3 linked regions of the Homo sapiens genome follow. The protein of the gene in region 2 purifies or fractionates together with the protein of the main gene of each other region. This does not show direct contact. Each region holds a gene or a part of one and is shown on either strand. Other genes may lie near its edges.

What was found. The genes of interacting proteins can lie anywhere in the genome.
Region 1: the proteins of C1orf174 (region 2) and ZC3H8 purify together in Homo sapiens (co-immunoprecipitation; 2 studies listed by BioGRID and IntAct, with this or other methods). This does not show direct contact.
Region 3: the proteins of C1orf174 (region 2) and STK35 purify together in Homo sapiens (affinity purification with mass spectrometry; 4 studies listed by BioGRID and IntAct, with this or other methods). This does not show direct contact.

The regions. Positions count from the first base shown.
Region 1 is NC_000002.12:112,245,037-112,252,063, reverse strand, and holds part of ZC3H8 (zinc finger CCCH domain-containing protein 8), read left to right. Parts: intron 1-1,791; coding exon 1,792-1,873; intron 1,874-7,027.
Region 2 is NC_000001.11:3,897,249-3,904,108, forward strand, and holds the start of C1orf174 (UPF0688 protein C1orf174), read right to left. Parts: upstream 3,025-6,860; 5' UTR 2,939-3,024; coding exon 2,924-2,938; intron 2,334-2,923; exon of another isoform or gene 1-2,333.
Region 3 is NC_000020.11:2,104,806-2,111,832, reverse strand, and holds part of STK35 (serine/threonine-protein kinase 35), read right to left. Parts: intron 1-7,027.

The DNA.
Region 1 (7,027 bases), on a different chromosome or scaffold from region 2:
AATGAGAATATAGATGAGAATATAGACAAAGAAGAGAAGAGGTGAGAACTGACTTTGAAAGTTGTGAAGATAAGGAACCAACAAAGGAGACTGAGAAGTAGTAGCTGTGGAAAGAAGAAACTAGAAGAGCCCACTATCTCTGAAGCTAAGTAAAGAACATGTTTTACAGAGAAGAGGTGGTCACCTCTGTCCTATCCTGCTCATAGGTCTAATATGGGTGCTGAGTATTGTAGACCTTCACAGTGAAAGTAGACATCTATTTAGAATGGGCAGTGTTGAATAACAGTGTGATTGTAGGGCACATACTTGGGAGCTTTGCCTGCCTGCTGGGGCTCAGATCTCAGCTCCACCATGTATTAGCTCTGTGACAAGTTACATATCCTTTCTGTGATTGTTTTCTCATCCGTAAAATGGGCTTTTAGTATGTATGTCATAACACTGTTGTTTGTGGTAAGTGTTACGTGTATGGAGCAGCATCTGGCACAGAGTAAGCATCATTCAAGTGTTGGCTGATGCTGTTACTGCTATTGAGGTCATTATTGTCATTATTCCTCTGCCTAAGGAGAGGTTGCCTCCTACTCCATGAGATGATTCATTACTGGAAACTATAGCTATAAAGATTCACAAGTATTGGGGTTTTTGGTTCTTGTAATGGTGGCTTCTGTAGCAGGCTCACAACTTAGTACCTCATCTGATGGATGTAACTCTGGAGCTCTGAGTCAGTGTAAACTGTTGAATTGGACAAAGCTGTGAAGCCTGAGCTCCTGTAACTTTGAAAGAACAGCCACGGAGCCACTGTTCACATTCTCCTTGTGCTGTCAGTGCTTTCCCTTTGTAACATGTTCTCTTGAGATGGGACACATTCCCCAATTCCTTGCCTTTATCTGGTGTGTAACTCATATTTTAATTCACAGCTTTTCCCAATCTTGTGTTCAATAGTCACCACTTACTAAGATAATATTTTCTTCAGCTCCCTATATTTCTAGTATCAACCATTATTCAGATACATCTATACATTTTATTGTCTTCTTTGTTCACCATGTTCTTATATTTCCCATCCCTCTTGGGTTCATATTTAGTTTTGCTGGAATAGCCTCAAGTAATTGTCTCAGACTGTTATATATATGCATGGTCAACTTCTCAGTCCTGTAAGTCTGAAAACAGTTTTTCTTTTTCATCTTTACACTTAAATGTGTTTGTCTCGCTCCTAATCTCAAAAGGCACTCTGCATTCTGCCTAAAATACCCTTCTCTCTCACATTCCTCTTTCCTCTTTTTTGGCTAACTCATAAGTATCATTTAGGCTCTGAATGCCTCTGATCCCCAAGTCTGGGTTGTGTTCCCCATATATGCCCCTATACTTACCATACCATATTGAAATAGCTTTATTTTTTTCTCCCAAGGAGATAGAAAGCTCTCAGAACACAGTGACAGGGTCTGTATTTTTCATTGTTGTAGTCCAGGGCCTAAGGCCCGGAGCCTCGTACATGGTGGGTACTTAGTAGTTGTTGAATTAATGGAATGATGGATGAATGAATGATTTATATAGCTGCTAATACTTGAACATTAAGGCTTTATAATCTAAAATTTTACAGGCTATTCATAAATATATATGGACATTTATTGGTCATCATAATTTTGTACATTTTCTGGAGTATTTGGTATAGAATTTGAATTTGTAATTTCTTTGAGGGTAAGTTGAAGACAAGCCAAAGCAGTGAATTGTAACGCTGTGGTATGAACACTTCAGGTTGAAAAAACTCTTTTGTGTTATTTGATATTTTTGCTACAGAATCGATGATGAAATAGATACAGAAGTTGAAGAAACACAAGAAGAGAAAATTAAACTGGAGTGCGAGCAAATTCCCAAAAAAGTAAGATTAAGTTGACCACTGTTTAAGTTGAAAACGCAGATTTTTTTTTCTCAGTTTCACATGGAACAACAAAAAAAGAAAAAACAGATGGAAATGGATATGAGAAATTAATGAAGGATCCTACTTGTCTCATTTTACCAGCATTTGGGACCCAGTTACTTATATCAAAGAAAACTGGTTATACTTTTTAAATAAATTATTATTTAATAACTTTATTGTCATTTAACATGACATATGTTTAATAATTGCATTTATTTCTATTTTTGTTATTTCTGAAATGGACTGTAAACAGTTTCAAAAGCTTCTTTCAAGTTGGGTTAACATTTTTGAGGGTTATGATTTGTTAACTTAACCAACCTTAGTGATTTATAGCTTAAAGCCCGTATTAGTTCATTAGGGCTGCCATAACAAAGTACCACAGACTGGGTGGCTTAAACAACAGAACTTGGCTGGGCGCGGTGGCTCACGCCTGTAGTCCCAGCACTTTGGGAGGCCGAGGTGGATGGATCATGAGGTCAGGAGTTTGAGACCAGCCTGGCCAATATGGTGAAACCCATCTCTACTAAAAATACAAAAAAATTTAGCCAGGCATGGTGGCATGCACCTGTAGTCCCAGCTACTAGGGAGGCTGAGGCAGAAGAATCACTTGAACCCAGGAGGTGGAGGTTGCAGTAAGCCAAAATCCCGCCACTGCACTCCAGCCTGGGCAACAAAGCGAGACTCCGAATCAAAACAAAAACAAAAACAAAAAAAACCCCAGAACTTTATTGTCTCAAGGTTCTGGAGGCTGGAGGTCCCAGCACAAGGTGTTGGCAGGGTTGGTTCCTTCTGAGGCTGTGGGGAAGAATCTATTCATTCATCTCCCCTAGCTCCTGATGGAATGCTGGCAATCTTTGGTGATGGCTTGCAAAAGTATCATCCTGATTTCTGCCTTCATATTCACATGGTGTTCTCCCTGTATGCCTGTGTCTGAATTGTCTGAATTTCCTTTTTTTGAGACAGAGTCTTGCTCTGTCACCCAGGTTGGAGTGCAGTGGCACAATCTCTGCTCACTGCAACCTCCTTCTGGACTCAAGCAATTCTCAGCCTCCCAAGTAGCTGGGATTACAGGTGTGCACCACCACGCCCAGCTAATTTTTGTGTTTTTTGTAGAGAAAAAATATACATGGGGTTTCGCCATGTTGCCCAGGCTGGTCTCGAACTCCTGGGGTCAAGCGATCTGACCGCCTCGGCCTCCCAAAGTGCTGGGATTACAGGCCTGAGCGACTGTGCCCGGCTGAATTTTCCTTTTTTATAAGGAAATCAGTCACTGGACTAGGGCCCACCCTAATGACCTAATCTTAATTAATTACACTTGCAATGACCCTATTTCCAAAAAAGGTCACATTCTGAGGTATTAGGGGTTAGTAGTTCATTATAAGAATTTTGGGAGGGTGCAGTTCAACCCATAACAAAGGTAATGTATATTCCTATCTTGCCCTTCTTTTCTGTTTTTGAACATGGAGAAACGCCATCTCTACTAAAAATACAAAATTAGCCAAGCATGGTGGCAGGCACCTGTAATCCCAGCTACTCAGGGAGCTGAGGCAGGAGAATCGCTTAAACCCGGGAGGCAGAGGTTGCGGTGAGCCGATATCATGCCATTGCACTCCAGCCTGGGCAACAAGAGCAAAATTCCATCTCAAAAAAAAAATGAGTTTTAACACACTATAGAAGAATGGGTTAAATTGTCACTGAGACTTATAAGACAGAAATAGACTTTAATAGTGTATCTTTTACTTAGCTTTCTTGCTTGCTTGCTTTTTCTTTTTCTTTCTTTCTTTTTTTCCTTTTCTTTTTCTTTTTCTTTCTTTTCTTTCTTTCTTTCTTTTCTTTCTGTCTCTGTTGCCCAGGCTGGAGTGTGGTAGCATGATCTTGGCTCACTGCAACCTCCTTCTCCTGGGTTCGAGCAGTTTTCCCACCTCAGCCTCCCGAGTAGCTGGGACTACAGGCACACGCCACCACACCTGGCTAATTGTTGTATTTTTAGCAGAGACAGGGTTTCATCATGTTGCCCAGGCTGGTCTCAAACTCCAGAGCTCAAGTGATCTGCCAGCCTCGGCCTCCCGAAGTGCTAGGATTATAGGTGTGAGCCACCATGCCCAGCCTCCTTAGTTTTATAAAAGAATACAGGACAGATGATAAAGCAGGTACAGTATCTTCATCTTCTTGGAAGCCTCTCAGCTACCCAAGTAAGCAACTTCTTTTCCCCTTTGGGGCCTATGTGGCTTCCAAAGATGAGAGCCAAGGTTGACGACAAGAAATTGCAACTTCAACTTCCCACAAGTTTTTTATACTGCTTGAGTCACATAGGCCTCAGTCTTTTATGCCCACTTTTAGCTCCTCCAGACTTCGTATTATATATTATAACCTTCCACAGCAGACAGGCAGAAACAACATTCTACAACTGTCTTACATAGTTTCTGCAAAACAGTACTGTGAGAAGATGGACTCCTAGGTTATTCTCAACCAGGCTTGCTTCAGTGCAGCCTCTTCACTCACAAGTATGTAAAAGGTGAATACATTATCAAATAAATATCACAGCTAATTAATTAATTAACTTATTTATTTTTGAGACAGAGTCTCACTCTGTTGCACAGGCTGCAGTAAAGTGGCAAAATCTTGGCTCACTGCAACCTCCACCTCCCAGGTTCAAGCAATTCTCCTGCCTCAGCCTCCCGAGTAGTTGGGAATACAGGTGCCTGTCACCCACCTTGCCTGGCTAATTTTTGTATTTTTAGTAGAGATGGGTTTTTGCCATGTTGGCCAGGCTGGTCTCGAACTCCTGAGCTCAAGTGATTGGCCCGCCTCAGCCTCCCAAACTGCTGGGATTACAGGTGTGAGCCACCATGGCTGGCTATAGCTTATTTAAAAGAGAATACCCAGGTAAACACTTTGCAAGTTAAGAAAGAGCATTACCTCAGATTTTGAGGGTTTGATTTCATACCACCACAATAAAACAAATATTGCAGTAAAGCTAGGCACAAGAATGTTTTGGTTTCCCAGTGCATATAAAAGTTACATTTATACTATACAGTACTCTGTTAGGTGTCCAATACCATTATATTTTAGAAAACAGTATATATCTTAATTAAAAATTCTTTGTTGCTAAAAAATGTTAACAGTCAGCGAGTCATCTTTTTGATGGCAGAGGGTCTTGCCTCAGTGTTGATAGCTGCTGAGGGTGGTGACTGCTAAACACTGAGGTGGCTCTGGCAATTTCTTAAAATAGGACAGCAGTAAAGTTTGTCACCTCAATTGACTTCTCCTTTTACAAAATATTTCTCTGTAGTATGTGATGCTGTTTGATAGCATTTTACCCACAGTAAAAATTTCAAAATTGGAGTCAATCCTCTCAACCCCTGCCACTGCTTTATCAACTAGGTTTATATAATATTCTAAATCTGTTGTCATTTCAACAATGTTCATAGCATCTTCACCAGAAATAGATTGCATCTCAAGAAACCACATTGTTCACTTGTAAGAAGCAGCTCCTCATCTGTTCAAGTTTGATCATGAAGTTGCAGCAATTCAGTCACGTCTTCATTCTCCACTTCTAATTCTAGTTCTCTTGCTTTTCCACCACACCTGCAATTACTTCGTCTACTGAAGTCTTGAACTCCTCAAAGTCATCCCTGAGGGTTGCAATCACCTTCTTTCAAACTCCTGTTATTGTTGATATTTGACCTTCTGCCATGAATCACGAATGTTCTTAATGTCAGCTAAAATGGTGAATCCTTTCTAGGTTTTCAATTTACTCTGCCCAGATCCATCAGAGAAATCACTTTCTATGGCTACTATAACCTTAAAAAGTGTATTTTGTATTTATTTCTTAAATAAGACTTGAAAGTCAATTATTCCGTGATCCATAAGCTGCAGAATGGTTGTTGTGTTTGTGGACATGAAAACATTCATCTCCATCAGAGCTCTTGGGTGACTGGGTGCATTGTCAATGAGCAGTAGTATTTTGAAAAGGATATTTTTTCTGAGCAGTAGGTCTCAACAGTGGGCTTAAAATAGTCAGTAAACCATGCTGTAAACAGATATACTGCCATCTGGGCTCTGTTGCTCCATATATAGAGCACAGGCAGAGTATATTTAGCATAATTCTTAAGGGCCCTAGAATTTTCAGACTGGTAAATGAGCATTGGTTTCAACTTAAAGTCACCAGCTGCATTAGCTCCTAACAAGAGTTAGCCTATCTTTTTGAAGCCTTTTAAAGTATTTTATTTGTATAAATTTACGGGGTGCAAGTGCAATTTTGTTACATGCATAGATTGTAGTGGTGAAGTCAGGGTATTCTTTGAAGTGAGGTATTGACTTCTCTCTAGTTATGAAAGTCCCAAGTGGCATCTTTTTCCAACATAAGGCTGTTTCATTTACATTGAAAATCTGTTGTTTAGTGTGGCCACCTTCATCAATGATCTTAGCTAGATCTTCTGGATAATTTGCAGCTTTTACATCAGCACTTGTTGCTTCATCATGCACATTGCTTTTTGAGATGGAGTCTTGCTCTGTCACCCAGGCTGGAGTGCATTGGCATTACCTTGGCTCACTGCATCGTCTGCCTCCTGGGTTCAAGCGATTCTCCTGCTTCAGCCTCCTGAGTAGCTGGGACTACGGGTGTGCACCATCACACCCAGTTAATTTTTGTATTTTTAGTAGAGACGGGGTTTCACTATGTTGGCTAGGCTGGTCTTGAACCCCTGGCCTCAAGTGATCTGCCCGCCTCGGCCTCCCAAAGTGCTGGGATTATAAGCGTGAGCCACCGCGCCTGGCCTGTCATGCACTTTTTATGTGATGGAGACATCGTCTATCCATAAACCTCAAGAACCAACCTCTGCTAACTTCAGACTTTCCTTCTGCAGCTTCCTCACCTTTTTCCACCTTCATAGAATTGAAGAGAGTTAGGGCCTTGCCCTGGATTAGGCTTTGGCTTAAGGGAATGTTATGACTGGTTTGATCTTCTATCCAGACCAATACAATTTCTCTGTATCAGCAATAAGGCTGTTTTGTGTTCATATCATTAGTGTGTTCACTGGAGTAGCACTTTTACTTTCCTTCAGGAACCTTCCCTTTGCATTCACAAGTTGGCTATTTGGCTTACGAGGCCTA
Region 2 (6,860 bases):
AGCCATGATAAACAATATCAAGATCATGAATAAAGAAGAAACATAAGATAATGCTGCATCAAAGAGACTATCAATAAAGATAAATTACTTAAAAACCAAATGGAAATTCTGGAGTAGAAAAGTACAAAACCTGAAATAACAAAATTCACTAGAAGGGCTTAATAGTAGAACTGAACTGGCAGGATAAGCAAACTTGAAGACAGATCGATAGATTATGCATGCTGAAGAACACAGAGAAAAAAAGAACGAAGAAAAATAAAGCAAGCTGCAGAGAAATGCTGGACATCATTAAGTGCACTAACATACACAAAATAAGAACCACCAGGAATGCAGAGAGAAAGGAGCAGAAAAAATATTTGAAGAAATAATGGCTGAGAACTTCTCAAATTTACAGAAAAACATTAACCTATATATCCAGGAATCTTTTTTTTTTGAGACGGAGTCTCACTCTATCGCCCAGGCTGGAGTACAGTGGCATAATCTTGGCTCACTGCAAGCTCCGCCCCCCAGGTTCATGCCATTCTCCCGCCTCAGCCTCCCAAGTAGCTGGAACTACAGGCGCCCGCCACCACGCCCCGCTAATTTTTTGTATTTTTAGTAGAGATAGGGTTTCACTGTGTTAGCCAGGATGGTATCAATCTCCTGACCTTGTGATCCGCCTGCCTCAGCCTCCCAAAGTGCTGGGATTACAGGCGTGAGCCACCGTGCCTGGCCCCATATCCAGGAATCTTAATGAACAGAACTCCAAATAGGATACATGCAAAGAGATCCACAGACACATCACTGTAAAAATACAAAGATCAAAGGCAAAATCTTGAAAGAGAACAAAACCTTGAAAGCCCCAAGAAGAAAGCCACTTAGAAGGGAACCTCAATAAATGAACTGACTGAAACAATGGAGAATATTCAAACATATTCAACATGCTCAAATAAACTTGTCAACCAAGAATCCTATATCCAGCAAAGCTATACTTCAAAAATGGGCTGGGCATGGTGGCTCATGCCTGTAATCCCACCACTTTGGGAGGCTGAGGCAGTGATCACCTGAGGTCAGGAGTTTTAGACCAGCCTCGCCAACATGGTGAAAACCTGTCTCCAGTAAAAACACAAAAATTAGCCGGGCGTAGTGGCAGCCTCCTGTAATCCCAGCCATTCCAGAGGCTGAGGTGAGAATCACTTGAACCCGGGAGGCAGAGGTTGCAGTGGGCCGAGATCACACCTCTGCACTCCAGCCTGGGCAACAGAGTGAGACTCTGGTCTCAAAGCAAAAACAACAACAACAACAACAACAACAACAACAACAACAAAACTCACTTTACAAGAAACACTAAAAGAAGTTCATCAGGCTGAAAGCAAGTGACCCCAGACAGTAATTCAAAACCACACACACACAAAAACAGCACCAGTAAAGGTAATTATGTTCTTATATAGTTTAAATGCCTATTCCTCTACCTCCTTCTCTTAATTTAAAAAGCAATTGTATACAGTAATATGTGTATAATATATACAGACATGTACTATATTTGCCAATAACAAAACAAAGTGGGTGAAAGCAAACCCCTGCTGGCTAAGGAAATGACCACAGACAGAAAGTAATAATGATAACACAGTACTGTTGAGTTTGTAACATTATCAGATGTAATACATATAACAAAATACCACAAAAATAACCATATAAGAGTAACATTTCTGTATCACTTGGAATTAACCTAGTACAAATCTGAAGCTTAAGATGTATATGGAGAATATGAAGATTAAGCTGTATACGGTAAAACATAAAGCACTGGAAAAAACCCAAAAAAGTTGTGGAAAAAAAATCATTAAATTAAAATGCTACATTAGGAAATATTCACTTTAATCCACTTAAAGAAGGAACAGGGGAAGAAAAAGACAGACTTGTATAAAGAAAAGAAAAAGTAAAATGGCAAATGTAAACCTAACTACAGTGTATCAATAATATTAAATGTGCATGGGCTAAACAATTCAATCAAAAGGCAGAAACTACCAGACTGCATTTTAAAAAAGATCCAAGTATATGTGCCTACAGGAGACAAGTTTTGGTTCAAAGATAAAAATAGTAAAAGGAGTTGGAATTCACAAGTGGCCACTCCATTTGAACAAACCAGGAGAGCCTCCATGCAGCTCAGAGCCTCCCAAGTGGACCGGGACCCGCGCCGGGTCCACTGTGAAAAGGGTCCTTCGCCTTAACTGTTACACCCACGCAATGAGCACTTGCCCCTTGCCAGACACTGGCACCCCCCTTCAATCCTCACCACCCTCTTGGTGGATCCCTCATCACCCCACTTTTAGCACATTCAGTAGATGGGGCCAAGCTGAGGTCACTTGCTGTGTGACGTCCATTGGAGTGGCAGCAGTTGAGGGGCACAAACTCAGCTCTGCAGCATCTAGCACTACCAGGAGTTGAAACCAGTTCTGGAGAGGGTGCCCCACCTTCCTAGGAAAGTGGCCCGAAACCTCCCTTCAAGGGGGCGTGACCTGGGAGCCCCCTGTTGCCCAGGACGTGAACTGTGAGCTCCACTTCTCCCGAGGGCGTGGACCGGAGCCCCCCTTCTCCCGCGGGCATGGCCTGGGAGCTCCCCTTCTCTCGGGGGTGTGGCCCAGAGGCCCCATTCTGCGGGGGTGGGTAACCTGGGAGCCCCCTTCTCCCGGGGACGTGACCTGTGAGCTCCACTTCTTCCGAGGGCGTGGCCCGGAGCCCCCTTTTCACAGGGGCGTGACCTGGCAGCCCTCCTTCTCCCGGGAGCGTGGCCTGGAGCCCCCCAACTACTGCCGGGGGCGAGGCCCAAGCGGAGGCCGCTCCTAGGCCACAGGCACCCCGTGACCCCGCCCCGGTTCTCCAGACAGCAGGTGACCCAGAGTCCCCGCCCTGCCCGGCGCAGCTGCTGCCGGGACCCAGCCCTCACCTTCCGGCTCCTCATGAGTGTGAGCACCGCAGCCAAGCACCGCGCGCCCCGGCCAACGCGTCCCGGCGGAGCGGCGACCCGGAGTCTGCAGAGCGCGCCGCGGCGGCGTCCGACGTCAGCACAGCCAATCACAGTGCAGCACCCTCGTCATGTGATTCCCCCCCCCCCCCCCCCCGTGTTGGCTCTTTCGTAAGCGGCGGGCGAAGGTCACAGGCCTTGGGCCAGTGGTGGGACACTGGAGCAGGAAGTCGGCCTGTGGCCGGCCATGTTCATGAGGGCGCGTCCCTTGGCACCCCTGTAGCCGCTATGTTTCCCACGCCCGTGGCAGGCCTGAGAGATTATGTTTGCGGGGGGTGCTTTTTTTGTAGCTTCTGTGTTCGCCATATTTGAAAGGGGCAGACGGCCATGTTCGTGAACGGCGCTTCCCTTGGTGCACCTGTGGCCGCCATGTTTGAGCGAGGTGGGCAACTATGTTCTTGAGGGGGGAGCAACCATGTTCTTGAGGGGCTCTTCCCTTGAAGCCTCTTTGGCCACCATGTTTGAGAGGGGCAGACGGCCATGTTTGTAAGGGGCGCTTCTCTTGGTGCGCCTGTGGCCGCTATGTTTGAGAGGGGCAGGCAACCATGTTCGTGAGGGGCGCTTCCCTTGAAGCCTCTTTGGCGCCATGTATGAGAGGGGCGGACGGCCATGTTTGTGAGGGGCTCTTCCTTTGGTGCGCCTGTGGCCGCCATGTTTGAGAGGGGCGGGCGGGACGTCCGTGAGGGGCCCCTCCCCTTGCATCCCCTGGCTAACAGCCTGCAGGAGGGCGGGAAGTGCTTTCTCCAGTGCCGCAGAGCGCTGGTTTCTGAGTGCCGGTTAGCGGCCTTGAGCAGCGCGAGGGACTCCCAGGCCTGCCCGTGCTGCGGTCCCGCTGGGGAGCTTTGCGCGCTTGTCGCAGGCTGTGCTGCCCCGCGACATGCCGCTTTGGGTTGGGGTGGCCCGCCCGGGAAGTGGCCTCAGCTGTCCCCCACGTTGCGGGCGGGAGGGGGCCTTAGTGGAGGCCGTCGGTGGGCCCAGGAGGCCAGGGTCCGGCGTCGGGCTGGGGGCCGGTTTTCGTCCCCCGTTACGTGCAAGGCGGGAAATGACCCCTCCGCCGTCCCGTTACTCTCCGGGGCCAACGTGGACTCGCAGGGGCCACGCCTTTTCCAATGGCCACGCCCCTAGCAGGCCTGGGTGGACCCGCAGCGGCCACGCCTCCTCCAATGGCCGCGCCCTATCAGGTCTGGATGGACACACGGCGGCCACGCCTCCTCCAGCAAACACGCCCCTAGCAGGCCTGGGCTGCTGTGATGCGTCCTCTTTGGCCGCCGCTGAGGGAGGTGTTTGTAAAGCTGAGGACCACTGTTCTGTTGTGGGTTTTTTTGTTTGTTTGTTTGTTTTTTGAGACGGAGTCTCGCTCTGTCACCCAGGCTGGAGTGCAGTGGCGCGATCTCAGCTCACTGCAACCTCCGCCTCATGGGCTCAAGCCATTCTCCTGCCTCAGCCTCCTGAGTAGCTGGGATTACAGGCAGGCGCCACCACACCTGGCTAATTTTTGTATTTTTAGTAGAGATGGGGTTTCATCATGTTGGTCAGGCTGGTCTCGAACTCCTGACCTCAAATAATCCGCCCACCTTGGCCTCCCAAAGTGCTGGGATTACAGGCGTGAGCCACCGTGCCAGGCCCACTGTTCTTTTCTTTTCTTTTTTTTTTTTGACGGGAGTCTCGCTATGTCGCCCAGGCTGGAGTGGAGTGACGCAATCTCGGCTCACTGCAAGCTCTGCCTCCCGGGTTCACGCCATTCTCCTGCCTCAGCCTCCCGAGTAGCTGGGACTACAGGCTCCCGCCACCACACCCGGCTAATTTTTTTGTATTTTTAGTAGAGACGGGGTTTCACCGTGTTAGCTAGGATGATCTCGATCTCCTGACCTCGTGGTCCGCCTGCTGCGGCCTCCCAAAATGCTGGGATTACAGGCGTGAGCCACCGCGCTCGGCACACTGTTCTGTTCTTAAGAATTTCAACATAGAAATGAAATCCAGCCTTGCCTTAAACCCTCCAGCCCTCAAGTTCTCTGGGCTCTAGGATGTGTGTCTTCAGAAAAGGGCGCAGGGTGGAAGCCACATCAGAGGCCGAGGACACCTGGCCCCTCCCCTCTCCGCCCGCAGGTGGCTGCGCAGTCCAGGGCTGGCTCCCAGGTGCTCGGGCGCAGGGTGCACCCAGCAGCCCGTACTGTGCTTTGCAAATAAATGGGAGTCTTATTTCCTTTTTAAATCATTATTTTTTTTTTCAAGTGAGAACATTTAAATCAGGCAGTTTTGTCAGAAGCATTAGGTTTTCCACTTAAACTACAAAGGTTGAAAAGTGAACTGCATTGCATTGTGGCTTCATGGCCTGCTCAGGGTCCCTCTGTGCACTGTTCCAAGGCAGGGTGTGATTCATAATCTCTTCCAAAAGCATCAGTGTGCCTTCTCTTACGGTATGACTCTCTCAAAGCCCAGACATGCAGCTGATGCCTCCTTTTAGTGCCTGAGAAGGGAGAGTATTTAAGGATCCTGCCAGCTTGAGCTCTATGCAGCCTCCACTCTCTTTAGAAGTGTGACGTTTGGTAATTAGGTGGAGCCCTCAAATTAGACTGCACGTGGGGTTTTGCTTTCGGCAGTGAGTGAAGATGCTTGCAGCCCTGGTGTACACACACACACACATGTCCTACCTGGCTGTTGTACCCTCTCTCTTCCTAGCCCTGCGCTTCTCCCGTGTTATTATCCATGTTGTACAGAAGGGGAGGAGACAAATGTGTAACTGGCAGGAAATGCGTTTGAAATGGAAACTTAATATAATCGCTGCCAGCTGTTCAGAAAAAAATGAGAGCGAGCGATACTTTGTTAAACACCTAGCCTGTCCCATTTTCGCAGAGATTGATTTCATAATAAGCTTGGTTCAGTGGTTTTATTTCCCAGTCCTTGGGAGCTCAAAGTTTTCATCCACTGGGGCTTGGCTGGTGTTTGCCTGTCTTGTTTGTGGTTGGTGCCAGTTGATGTAAATGCCTCACTGCCTGGCCTCGCCCGCCCGATGGGGGCTCTGGGCTCCGAGCCATGTGGACTTTTAACATCCCAAAGGGCACTCTCCTTCCCTTCACCAATGTTGTCTGTCCTCTCCCCAGGTCTGGGATGAGCATGGTTTCCAGCCTCCCAGCTGTAAGGCCTGACACCCAGGCCATTGGTGAATGTCTCTCTCTCCCTGCCCACATCCTGTCAGATGCCGGTTGCTGTTAATTCTAGACTTTGAAGCCTCACGGCTGGTCTCTCCTTTTCCTCTGGCCTGGGCAGCCCACAGCTGTTGGGGTGATCCCCTGCTTCTGGGATCCAGAGCCACAGTCTTAGAGTGGCCTGTAAGTCCTGGCATGGTGCCTGGCACACTGTGGGTGCCCAGCAGGTGTTTGTCCAATGAATGTGCGGAAGGGCTTCTGAGCTTGCTCACCGTTGCCGCTCCCTGCTCCAGCCGCACAGAGTCCCAGCACCTGTTCCCCTGCCCCTCTGCTATCCACAGTGCCTCCCTCAGCTCCTGACCACTGCAAAGCCTCTTCCCCACTTCCCTGTGCCTGAAAACCTTCTTTCCCCAGCTCCCCAACCCACGTTTTGCCTGGCTAATCCATTTGTTAAACCTCAACTCAGCTTATATCTCCTGTCCTCAGGGGGCCCTTCCTGGATGCTCCCCCGCCCCCTACATTCAATCTGCCGGTTGCTGCTTTTTTAGTGTTCTGCACTCTTCTACCAGGACCCCGTGGCAGGCCAGGACCGTTTCTCCGGTGCTATCCCAGAGCATGGCGCATCCACTCATTCACTCAAGGTATCAAGCTCCACTGTGTTCTGGGGACTGGGCCAGGCGCAAGCCCAGGCATGGAATCATCACACAGAATTG
Region 3 (7,027 bases), on a different chromosome or scaffold from region 2:
AGTAGTCTGGATAATCACAGAAGAGTTTCTGTAGATGTGCCGGAATGAGGCTGGATATCTTCTAAGGTGGATTTAGACTCCAAGAAATGGGAAGTGACTGAAAGTTCTTAATACATTTTATTTATTTACTTATTTTGAAACGGTCTAGCTCTGTTGCCCAGGCCAGAGTGCAGCCAATCACAGCTCACTGCTGCCTCTACCTTCTGGGCTCAAGGGAGCCTCCTGCCTCAGCCTCTCGAATAGAGTAGTGGGGATTACAACCATGCACCACCACGCCCGGCTATTCTTTTCTATTTTTAGTAGAGACAGGGTCTCCTTATGTTGCCCGGGCTGGTCTTGAACTTCTGGGCTCAGGCAATCCTTCCACCTCAGCCTCCTTAAGTACTGGGTAATTATAGGCATGAGCCACCACGCCTGGCCACTGACGTATTTTAGAGATGTGTCGCTTACAGAATCTACAAGTCACCAATTTTAAGGCATACCATTTAAGTAAGCCATATAGGCTGCTGACAACGCTATGGGCACACCATTGACTAAGTCAACCGCTGATTTCAGAGACGTTAAACTGTGAAAGAGCATATCTTGGACAATGAAACAAGTTCCTTATGGAGGCATGAGGGGTTGGCGATGGGAGACAGCCTAGTGGCCGACTGACTTATCAAGAGGCTCTGAAACCTGGTGAAGTGAGGGCTGGCAAGGGAGGAGGTGAGAAGAGGATGTGAAAGGTCTTAGAAGTTTAGGATAAATAAGATTTAATAACTTGTCACATAAGATGGAAAGGAAGAATTCAGAGAGTGCTCTGCCATTCCTCTCTGGTTACTCGAAACTGCTATCTATTCAGATAATAATTACATTTCCTCTCACAGGTGAGGAGACTCAGGAGCAAAAGATTAAGTAACTTGCCTAGTTGAGGGCAGGACCTTGAGTTTCCATAGGCTAGATTCTCAGCAGAAGCACTGTGACTGCCTTAGTGCCTGCAGCAAAATCGCACACCTGGATGTGCTAGTTCCCACAGCAGACTCTGATGCGTGCCCCCCAGAGTTTAATGTTCATCCAGTCCCTCGTGATGGTCCAACCACACAACATGCAGATCTGTCTTTCAGCAGAGGACTAATTAGGACTTTGACTTACGCACACTTCAGCAATTCAGCAATACATATAGGAAGTCTTAGAAATGCTCGATCCATTTGAAAGAAAAATCCCACTTGAGGAATTCATTCCAAAAGTGTCAAAAAGACACAAAACAAACAAGCCTCCCCACCCAACAAAAAAACACACACCAAACACCAGAGACACTCAGAACTGGTATTCCATACAGAGTAAGTCAAAGTGGAGGATTGGAAAACTACTGTCCAAGAATGAGAATGAGTAACAGTTAACTATGGTAATACCAATTGGCTGAAAGTTTTAAAGGACCATATTATACTTCAACAAAAGTTTACTTAAAAAGCCAAAAGAGAAAGTCACATAGCATGTAATAAGCAAGTTTTAATGTGAAGGGGGGAAAAGGGCAGAATATTAAAATTATAAAGTTATGTCTTAAGAAAAAGGATGAGGGAACCCCGAAAAATGAAGTTTGAATAAATTATGACTATAGCCATCCCTGTTTAATTAGGAGTTGTACATTAAAATATTTTAGTTAAAGAGCTGGCTCAGCCAAAGATCTGTCCTAAGAAGCTAAAGACACGGACCCATCCTGGCACATCTTCCCAAAGAAATATGAAAATGCAGACCAAGAATTGGTCCCATTCTCAATGATTTTGTGCTGTTATGTCATTATAAAGAGGCTGGGTACCATAGCAACACCACAGGGTGTGTCCAAAGTACTTCCTAAGATTAACAGACTTGTTCTGTTGGCTGCCAGGGCAAAACACAGTGTCCAAAAGAGGACAAGAGTAAACCCACCGGCCGGACAGGGGCTGTAAAGCCAGCCAGGCCTGGGGTCAACATTCCCTCTACTACCTGCCCCCAATCCCCCAATTACATAGCTATATGATCCTGGGCAAATTTCTTAGAACACTAAGAATCTGTTTAGTTTTTTATAAATTGAGAAGAAACACCTACAGCACTGGACTGCTCTAAGGCTTAACTGTGACATACAAAGCACCTTGAATGGTGCCTGGACACTAGAGCAGACTGCTACTGGGTGTGAATTATGCTAATGTCTCTGGACACCACTGGCAGCTGTCCAACACGGTCACAAGGCAGCCTGTCAAGAACATGGACACTGGAAAGAGCATCTGGATGTAAACCTAGGCCCTGACCTTTCTCTAGTGTTGTGCTGGACAAGCAACTTGACCTTGATGGACACTGACGTTCTTGTCTGTAAGAACAAGTTATATAAACACCAACTTTACAGTGGTGATGATTAAATGAGAAAAGGAGTATGAAAATACTACGAAATGCTAGCTATTACTACTTGGAACATTACAGGGGTTTGTTAAAATGTAGAATCCACCAGCCAGGCAGAGAGTTGGGGTACCCCTAATCCATGGCAGTCCGGGCTCAAGTATCTCTCTCCATATGCATGGGCCTTGCCACACACCTAAGCCTCAGCTCTTGCCAGGCTTGTTTCTGATTTACCCTTTTACAACTCATCCTTCCTTTCCCCAGATTTAGTCCACATTCCTGGCAGCTGATTCACCCAGAGCACCTCTTACAGGCTGCAGTGAAGTAACATCTATTGTACTGTAACCATCTCTTCCATTAGACTGGGCACTCACGGTGGAATGAAATCAAGTCTCTGGGTTCCCCACAGTATACCACATGCACACCTAGGTGGTCGATAAGAGGGTGAAATAAATCAAGATAAAAGTCATGCGCTGGAGAGGTGTAAAAAGAGAAAGAACACAGAAAGTAGTAGTAGGGTATGCAGAATATGCAAGTTAAAGACAACTAGGTCAGGATCCAGAATTTAGAAGTCACTAAGGAGGGTTCCTAGCCCTACAGATACCAGCAAAGGCCACATTTGAGGTGAATATGAGCAGACTACAAGTTCTACTTAGGAAGCACCCCTCGAGAGTTTATACTATAAAAAGCCTTACCCAACGCAACCCCAATTAACCAAAGCTCTCAATTAAGGAAGGGCTGCTTCTGTCTCCTGGGGCTGGTACCTAAAATCCCCAATGCACATAAAAAGTAGTCGGTCAGGAGCAAGAAGTCTGTGTGGTTGCCCCAAGTCATTCAAGAGTAGAGCAGAGAGCAGGTGGGGTCCCTGGCAGCTGAGACACACAGAAGGAACCAACAGAAATCAGCAGTGCCACAAGCACTGATCAATATACAACTAAAAACAAAGAGGAGCCATTAGTTTCTTTCTTTTTTTTTGGAGACAGTCTTGCTCTGTCGCCCAGGCTGGAGTGCACTGATGCGATCTCAGCTCACTGCAGCCTCTGCCTCCCGGGTTCAAGTGATTCTCCTGCTTCAGCCTCTTGAGTAGCTGGGATTACAGGCGCCCGCCACCACGCCCAGCTGATTTTTTGTATTTTTAGTAGAGACAGGGTTTCACCACTTTGGCCAGGCTGGTCTCCACCTCCTGACCTGAGGTGATCCGTCCACCTCGGCCTCCCAAAGTGTTGGGATTACAGGTGTGAGCCACCGCACACGGCCTGAGCCATTAGTTTCTGAGTAAAATATGATTATGCCCATTTTACAACCAAGAAAAACAGAAGAACCTAGAACTTAAGCTACCTGTCCCAGCAGTACCCCACAGCAGTTAAGAAAGCATACTCAAGTTTGAATGTCTGGCCTTGAATCCTGACTTGGTTACTTGCTTAGCTGTTTTACATTGGGCAATTTCACTAACCTTGGTACCTCAGTTGCCTCACCTATAAAATGAAGATAATCACGGTACTGACTTCACCTGATACATAGCAACCTGCAAGTTTCAGCTCTTATTTACAGGGTGAAACTGGGATTAAAACCTTCTGACTCTGAGTCTAGCATTTTATTGTATTGTGTTAACTTATATTTCCCCAATGCCAGCCAGCTCTCTGCCTCTTGACCTGGCGGCTCTCTAAACTCTGAGACCCAAGCCACAGAAGAGGATTCAGAGTTGCTTTTCTAAGGGCTGGGGAGGGAACGGCCTTGCTCTGCTCTGAAGGTTCCCTAGGCACTCGACAAGTTGGGGAAGTTTGCAGGCTGACAACCCATCTATTGCTAAGACCCTGGTCTATCCTATACTATTATAGTTCCTCCCTCAGCTTCTTCCTTCCCCTGCTTCCCCAATGCCCCTAACTAAACTCCCAGACAACTGTACTATTTTCTAAGATGCTACCACTTGTGACCCTGCATTATGTTCATGTGGGCATGCGTCCTCTGCATGCCTCGTGGAGAAAAACTCTGCATGGCCTCTTATAGTAGCCTGGCTCAAAGCCACTTGGTGTGCAGGCAAGATTACTTTCCAAGGCCTCGGTTCCCAGCCACCTAAAGGCATCGACATCAAACAATTGGTAAAGAACAATTAGTGTCTTATCAAGTTGAGTGTAAGCTAGGCTCCCGGCTCTCCCAAACTTCTAACTATTCTGTTATATGAGTCTTGAGAGTTTGTCCTGGATTAGTGTCTGTGAGTGTGTCCTCACTTGCTATTTGTCAGAAGAATCAGTGTGTGCCTTAGACAAAGCAACAGAATTTCTGACTGACAGTGACTCAGGCTTGCCTGCTGTCTAAGTGGCAGTAATCTTGAACTTTGTTTTAGGCACATTCAGGACAGGCATTCTCGCAATGGAAAACAAGGGGATAAAAGCAAACTGTTGATGCCTTCACCCCCCCAACCTTTATGTGAGAAGTATTTCAAAGTTAAAAACATAGGCACCAACCCTTCAACCAAATAATTTACAGGATTGTAAATGTGGTTTTAAAAAGCCTGGGAGGCTGGTTTGAGTGCTATCACTAACTCATTGTGGATAAAAGTTTTGTCCCTTTTCTGGGCTTCAGTTTCCTTCCTTGTGAAACAGGCAGCCAGGTCACACATCTAAGACCTCTTTCTATTCCTCCGAAGCTTCTGCTGTCTTAATGCCTCTGGGTAGGACGTGTTTGGTCTGTGCACAGAATGGAAGGAGACAATGCATTTAAGGCTATCAAACAAAATGGGGTAAGACCAAGAACAGCATTTCAAGACATTTCTCTTTTCGATACTGGATTATTTTACTGGCCAAATAGTGAAACGGACTCCCTTTGTCTCTTCGCCTATCCACAGTCCTAGGCACCCTACTTTCAAGCCCACCTTCTCCCTAACTCCTGATTCTCTTTCCTCTTAATTCTTGTGCAAAGCCCTTGCTTATGAGTTGACTGGTCATTTCCTCCAGTGATCTTGAATAGCATTTAAATCTTCTTCCAGTTCTCAAACTTTTCAAATGTAAGTTCCATTGGGGCAAGGGGTGGTGTGTTTTGCTTTGCTTTTTTTCTTTCCCTTCAAATACCACAGTAGGGACTCAGCATTAGGTTTAGTTGAGACTTCAAGGCAGATTCACACTTTTTGGCCTGTTCAAAATCATTCTGAGTTTTAGGAGGCAGGGCCAAGGGTGACTGTAAAGGACTTTTCTATTTAATGAGAGAGCTGAACCAGGTTATCTCTACGATTCCTTCCAGCTTTAACATTACTGGGTGGTATTTGCATGCTGTAAACCCAAGGCCCCAGGACAGATCAAGACCCCTAAATTTTGGAATCCAGAATAAGCAAAGTTTAACCTGGAGTAATTTTGGTATCTGTTCTCTATTTTAAGAAGCAAAAATGATTACCTATTTACTACTTGAAAAATCCACACATTGCAAGTCAGCTTGAATGTCATTTTCATAAGCAGAAACAACACATATTTTCTTCACTGCTCTGTCTCTGAGCCCTGAACACCGTAGAGGTTCAAATATTTTAAAGACTCCAAACAACTGAAAGGGACCAATCCAATCCAGTGTACGGCCTAAAGCAAAAGATTTCATTTTTCTAGGTCCCAGTTTTAGTTCACAAAGGGAGGATGAAAACACCAGTGTTTCTGTCAACTTGGTGTGCCTGACAACACAGAAAACAAGGTGTGTTCTATGATGAAACAAGTTTGGGAAACTTGAGCAAGAACAATGTGAATCTTGAAGGGGGTGAGGGTAGAAGAGTACAGAACATGGTGTGAACTTATATAAGGCAGTGAATTCCTCCCTATGTGGAGCACTTGCTGACATTAACAGTTTGCACAGTGACCCTATGTACCTAATGTCATAGGTACATACCCACTATCTTACAATAAAGGAATGCTCCTCACAGGGTTCAAACAATTTGCTCCATGTTTTGTGCAGTCAGTCCTGGGATGAGCCAGAGGGTCTAACCCCAAAGTCCATGGTACTAACCACTATGCTATGCTGCCATGGGGTCACTTTGGAATTTTGACAAATTCTTCAGGTGAGGAAAGTCCACATAGTATTTATATGTTGAGAGAGTAAGCAAGAGCTTCAAGCTGAGGTTGAAGGTTCGAGACTGGCGTCAATGAACTGAGGACACAAGGAATAAACATTCGGCAAGGCAAATTCCTACATCCCAAGGCAATCCTGTAGTAGGAAGTCCAGACCATTCATTGGCAGTAAAGGAGAAGACTAAGAGAAGTCTGAGAATAGAAAGACTTCAAAGTAAGTGATGCGCTCCTAGAATATAGGTAAGATAAACGAATCCCCTAGGGAGTCTTTTTTTTTTTTTTTTGAGACAGGGTCTTGCTCAGTCGCCCAGGTTATAGTGCCATTGCATGATAATGGCTCACTGTAGCCTCAACCTCCCAGGCTCAACTGATCCTCCTGCCTCTGCCTCTCAAGTAGCTGGGACTATAAGCCTGTGCCATCAGGTCCGGCTATTTTTTTTTCTATTTTTTGTGGAGACCAGGGTCTCACTTTGTTGCCCAGGCTGTTCCCAAACTCCTGGGCTCAAGCCATCCTCCCACCTCAGCCTCCCAAAGTGCTGGGATTACAGTCGTGAGCCATTGTGCCCTGCTGGAAGTCTTTTCAAAACAAAAACACTCACCCTGGGGAGAGGGTAGGCTTCTCAGAATGGATGGGG